Regions from separate parts of the Homo sapiens genome. Here region 2 is reported to be linked to region 1. Evidence: microRNA targets listed by miRTarBase, many of them from high-throughput screens and not tested one by one. Region 1 holds a microRNA gene; the other region holds the end of a gene's coding sequence.

Region 1 (3,000 bases):
GGGTGTTGTGGCACATGCCTGTAATTCCAGCTACTTGAGAGGCTGAGGTGGGAGGATCACCTGAGCCAGGAGAGGTCAAGGTTGCAGTGAGCCATGATGGTGCCACTGCACTCCAGCCTGGGCAACAGAGTGAGACCCTGTCTCAAAAAAAAAAAAAAAAAAAAAAATTAGACCAAAAAACAAAAACCCAAAAAGCCAAAATGCATCCAAGTATCATAAGTGAAAAAGTGAGCTTCTTAGCAGCCAATATGCAAAGGGAACATAATCTCTTACACAGTTTGGAATTACTCAGAAAACGTGGAACTGTCTTCAATCCTAAAGCGTCACATAGAAATGTTCCCTGAGTCTCACTGGGACAACACACTGAGCAATAGCTTTACCAGAATGTTTTGTGAATATGGTATGATATCAAGAGTAATAAAGTTATTTTGGAAAAAAATAACTTTAGAATAATCACTTAAAAGTCTGCTGTTTTTGACCATAATTGCACATGGATATATTGCCTTATATAAACTACAAAGAATTGTCTATTTCACATCACATTTTACAACTTACATTGCAAACCTCACTTCAGCCTTGAGGTACAACTATCAATAAAAGAAACAGGTCTTATTTTTAAAACTTTTTATTATTCATATCCTTGGTGACTTTCAGACAATAATTAACATGTGGTTAGTATCACCTTAATGGAGGAAGTACCTTATACTTCAAACAACCCTTACCAAAAGAACAGATAATACATATGTATTGATACAGCATTACAAATTGATGATAATTCAAAAAGGCACCATGTAGCTTGTACTTGAGAAGGAATTTTCCCTTTGCATATTGAAGGGGGTTCTGGTGGTGTTTTCTTTGTCCCCAGCCGACTTCACAATGAAATGTTTCTACTTTGCACCCTTTGGGTTCAGTTGTTCAACCAGTTACAATTAGTTAGATTAGTAACTGGTTGAACAACTGTAATCAAAGAGCACAGATTGACTTGTTGTGGTCTACTAGAGAGAGATTTGCTAGTGGTGTTCAGCAGGGCTCTGTCTGTCCTCTTCAATGTGTGCATGAATGACTTGAAGCAACATACATACATTCAAGAAAAATTCATTAAACATTGAATCATCATCTAATATTTGCCTGCTATTATGACAGGTCCTGAGGGAACCAAGAAAATGTCAGTTACATGGCTCTGATGCAAAGCTGGGAAGAAGGAGAAGGAGTCAGAGGTAGAGGCAGAGAGAGTAAAAGAAAGAGGGAGAAAGTGAGAAAGTGAGACAGAGAAAGAGAGGGAGGCCATGTTACACAACAGGAAATGTAACACATGACCTCCAGCTCGAAAAATTTGAATAAAAAGATATTTCAAGGAGTGCGAGGGAGGTAACCCTTACAATTATTAGAATGAACATTTACTCATTGTCAACACTATGGAGCACATATTTGGGAATTCACCTTTATTTATGCCACACAATATTATGTAGGTGACAAGCTAACCCGTCGTATTTAACAATATAAACAAAAACACAAATATCCTACTTTATTAAACTGAAAGCAGAGGACTCTCATCTCCCCAAAGCCCAGGCCATTCCCTGATATTAGTAAGGATACTAGGTGAAACTCCTTCTTTCAACATTTATTGTAATTAGTGAAAACATGCTTAATGGGACACCATCATCTACAATGATGACACCATATCTCAAATCACTAATCTTTCTGCCATGGACAGATTTCTGTATCAGGGGACACCTTTGTCATTTTGTCATCCAAATTTTGAGGATTCTTTTTCAATTCTCCAGCATTGACTGAGAATTTAAATGGTGCCAGCATTGTGCTGGAAACTGGATAAAAACTGAGATAACACACTTGAGTTCCTACTCTCAGAGAATCCACTTATTGGATTGCTTTGCTATAATTCCTGAATCCAGTGAGATTAACTGGTATTTTCTGTTGTTCAAAAAACTACTTTTCCCCTTTTTGTACAGATCAGCAATAAACATTTACATCGAGATTGTGTGGTGTCCATGAACAAGGCATTCAGTAGGGTCCAAGTCTAGACTTGAATGGCGTCTCTCACATTTTTGACTAAGAGACAATGTAGACATAAAAGTATCATAATCCAACTTACATACAAAATGGAAAAAATGGAACCAGAACACCTTAAAATGTTTCCTTTGAAATATGTGTGTGTTTCCATCAGGTTTATTTTAGTTCTCTAAAACTCTGTAATACTGAATACTCCAACTACCAATATTAGTCAAAGCTGTTTAAAACCAGCCTTCCCTTATTTACAAAAGGCAGATTTTACAAGACAACTATCAGGGATAAACACAAAAAGAAATGAAAACTGTTCCATGTCTAGCAATTCGCCAGAGTAAACTGGCTGTATATTGAACACAGCTGTTTCTGTGAGGGATTTTTCTTTTTTTGGAATTTAATATTGACTGTGCTCTTGTGGCAAGAATATAGTAAATGAAAGATTGTTCCAGGCCTGAGAAGAAGAGAGGCCAGAAACAATTGTTCCCCTAGGTCCTCCCCTTCCTTAATAACCAAACTGTTGTCTGGAGCCTCCTTGAGTTAAAAGCCTACCATTTTTCATGTCAATTACACACAAACAGGACTTTTCTTGTCACCTTCCCTAAACTGAGGAAGACACAAACCCAGCAGGAAGGCAATTGTAAAGATAAATTTAAAAGTAAGAAGGCAAGCCTGAAATGCAAACATAGGAAAGAGCCTCTTATTCCCTACACTTCTCACTTTTCATGGACCATTGAAGGCTGTTTCTTACCAAATTGAATTCTTTGAAAAGAGAAACCATGACAATTTTCCCCAGGCTACGGTAAATATATTTTCTTGCACATTTAGTTTTTGTTTCATAACAATCCTAATAAAATTAGATGCTTTTAGCACCTTACTTAAATTAAGAAGACCTTTCCTGCTAATGTGCCCAGAACCTATCTGGGTTACTAATATTAATAGTTCCATTTTATCATGTACTTAACTTTGTGCCAGGAA
Region 2 (3,135 bases), not on the chromosome of region 1:
TCCCTGCCACAGAGACCCAACAGACTTATTTATGCCTACCACAACTGAGACACTGAGAAAAAGATGCAACCATGAAAAGATAGAAAGTTCTAATGACACGCAAAAATAGCAATCAGACTTTCTCAAATTTCAAAGCCTTCAGAAATAGCTGAGTGCAGACAGGCCAGGGTGGAATTGACAGAAGACTGATCACCAACTAGCAACACAGTGAGAGAGAAAAAATTGCAACTTTCCCACAAAACTAATGCATTCCTTGAAGCAACAAGTAGAGACTGCTTCATGCTGAGAGCTGGAACCTGGGGCACCCCACTGTAAAATAACATCACATTCATTCCTTCTCTTTTCTTTCCATGACGGACGATTCAGCATCTGGAACTTCTCCTGGTCTCTCAGCTGGGGCCACTGTCGGCATCATGATTGGAGTGCTGGTTGGGGTTGCTCTGATATAGCAGCCCTGGTGTAGTTTCTTCATTTCAGGAAGACTGGTAGGTATAATGGCCTTTCCTCTTGTTCTGTTTCCTGCAGTGCTGACTGCCATGCTTGGGAGAGGGAAGGGATTTCTTCACCTGTATCTGGGACTGGATCTCTTCCTCCTACCCCCAAGCTCCTGCTTCTCAGCACTAATTCCTGCAGGTCTCTTCTTCCCTGGTCTTCATGCTCCCTGTACGCCACTGTCTCTTAGATATAATTATCCCCACCCTCTGCTCATTTGTTTCCCAGATTCAATACATTGTCAAAGCCTCTTGGTCCTTTTTTAACATCTCACACTTGTGTCATTCTCTCCATTCCCATAAACCTCAACAACTGCTCAAAGTCCTGCTTGACCCCTTGTTGCCAGTCTTTGAAATCTTTCTTGCATATGACTGCCTCATTACCTTCCTAAAATCTAGTTCACTCGCCTACTCAAGAAGACACAGGGGCCTACTGTGGTGTATTAGATAAGTTCACATTTCTTCTCTTTACTAATCTTTTTTACTTCCTTTACCACCACTCCCTTATATAATTCCATCATCCTAATAGATCTGTTTCCCTACACATCCCTGCCTCTCCACCCCACATGTACACAGAATTCTTAGTTCCGGTGTTACACCTAAAAACATGTCAAACAGGGTGACCTCCTTCCACTGTCTGCACTGTGGAGTTACCCACACCCTTAATCACAAGCAACTTCTGACCTCATGAAGAACAAAGACTGTAGCATTAACCTGTGAGTCTTAAGCTCAGGACACAACTGTGCCTGTGACTGAGAACCTTTTCCTGATAACCAATTCATATGTTCATAACAGATACAGAAATGAAGAAGGCAAGGTCCTTAATTCTATAACAGGAGACAAAACCTGAAAAATAATCATAATGCCAAAATAGAAAGGAGTGAACATCACAAGAAATTAGAGAAATCTGACGGAAAATATAGCTACACATTGGAATCACTCAGAAACATTTTATAAAATGGATACTTAAGTCCCACCGATAAATTCCGATTTACTGGTCTGGAGTGGGACCCAGGCATTCGTAATTTTTAAGCCTCCCCAGATGCTACTAATGTGTAGCCAGGATGGAGAAACCCTGTTCTAAATAGGTAGGACTTGGGGCTAAACCCATGACTTTCAGCTAGGAGGATTAGAATTGCCCATGGAGTTTTTCTGGCTGGGCACGGTGGCTCACGCCTATAATCCCAGCACTTTGGGAGGCCAAGGCGGACGGATCAGGAGTTCAAGACCAGCCTGACCAACATGGTGAAACCCCCTCTCTACTAAAAATACAAAAAAATCAGCTGGGCATGGTGGCACGTGCCTGTAATTCCAGCTACTCAGAAGGCTGAGGCAGGAGAATCGCTTGAACCCGGGAGGTGGAGATTGCAGTGAGCCGAGATCGTGCCACTGCACTCCAGCCTGGGCGACAGAGCAAGACTCCGTCTCAAAAAAAAAAAAAAAAAAAGAATTGCCTGTGGAGTTTTTCAACATACGTAAGCCTATACTTTGTTGGCCCTGTTCATTAATGGGCTCCACCAGGAAATTAGGAATCTAGTTGAGAAACAGAAGCTGAATGGAAAGGCCACCTTATTTGATATGTTAAATTATATGGGAAGCACTGTCAAATCATTAGTGATGTTAAACCTTCTCTAAGTTATATTTATGAGTATGTTATTGATGTATTCCAAAAGTTATATAAGAAATTCTAGAAATCTAATTGGTTATCAGCCATAATGTCATATGCCACAGAAGTAACTAAATTTCTATGTGAGTTGTGTTCTTATTATAATAAATTATCATCAGATTTTTAACTGTACTCATTTTAAATCTTTGTCATTCACAGACAGTTGTTTTGCTTCTTCCTTAAAGCATTTGCAACAGCTACAGTCTAAAATTGCTTCTTTACCAAGGATATTTACAGAAAAGACTCTGACCAGAGATCGAGACCATCCTAGCCAACATCGTGAAACCCCATCTCTACTAAAAATACAAAAATGAGCTGGGCTTGGTGGCGCACACCTGTAGTCCCAGTTACTCGGGAGGCTGAGGCAGGAGAATCGCTTGAACCCGGGAGGTGGAGATTGCAGTGAGCCCAGATCGCACCACTGCACTCCAGTCTGGCAACAGAGCAAGACTCCATCTCAAAAAGAAAAGAAAAGAAGACTCTGACCTGTACTCTTGAATACAAGTTTCTGATACCACTGCACTGTCTGAGAATTTCCAAAACTTTAATGAACTAACTGACAGCTTCATGAAACTGTCCACCAAGATCAAGCAGAGAAAATAATTAATTTCATGGGACTAAATGAACTAATGAGGATAATATTTTCATAATTTTTTATTTGAAATTTTGCTGATTCTTTAAATGTCTTGTTTCCCAGATTTCAGGAAACTTTTTTTCTTTTAAGCTATCCACAGCTTACAGCAATTTGATAAAATATACTTTTGTGAACAAAAATTGAGACATTTACATTTTCTCCCTATGTGGTCGCTCCAGACTTGGGAAACTATTCATGAATATTTATATTGTATGGTAATATAGTTATTGCACAAGTTCAATAAAAATCTGCTCTTTGTATGACAGAATACATTTGAAAACATTGGTTATATTACCAAGACTTTGACTAGAATGTCGTATTTGAGGATATAAACCCATAGGTAA

The links. Region 1 holds the annotated microRNA hsa-miR-582-3p (UAACUGGUUGAACAACUGAACC, at 905-926, opposite strand). A microRNA usually pairs through its seed, bases 2 to 8, with sites in the 3' UTR of a target mRNA and lowers its output. Matches are read on the target gene's strand: a 7mer-m8 pairs with bases 2 to 8, a 7mer-A1 pairs with bases 2 to 7 and ends in A, and an 8mer does both.
Region 2: miRTarBase lists CEACAM5 as a target of hsa-miR-582-3p. Seed matches in the 3' UTR shown: 7mer-A1 at 2,501-2,507.

What each region holds. Positions count from the first base shown.
Region 1 is chr5:59,702,726-59,705,725 of GRCh38, forward strand. It overlaps MIR582 (microRNA 582), which reads right to left and starts at 978; the gene lies at 881-978. All of the region lies in intron 1 of PDE4D (phosphodiesterase 4D), which reads right to left.
Region 2 is chr19:41,726,868-41,730,002 of GRCh38, forward strand. CEACAM5 (CEA cell adhesion molecule 5) reads left to right here. Exons shown (of 10, transcript NM_004363.6): 9 at 367-485; 10 at 2,317-3,135. The coding sequence ends at 449. Among named protein-coding and RNA genes, the nearest start is that of CEACAM5, 20 kb to the left of the region's middle.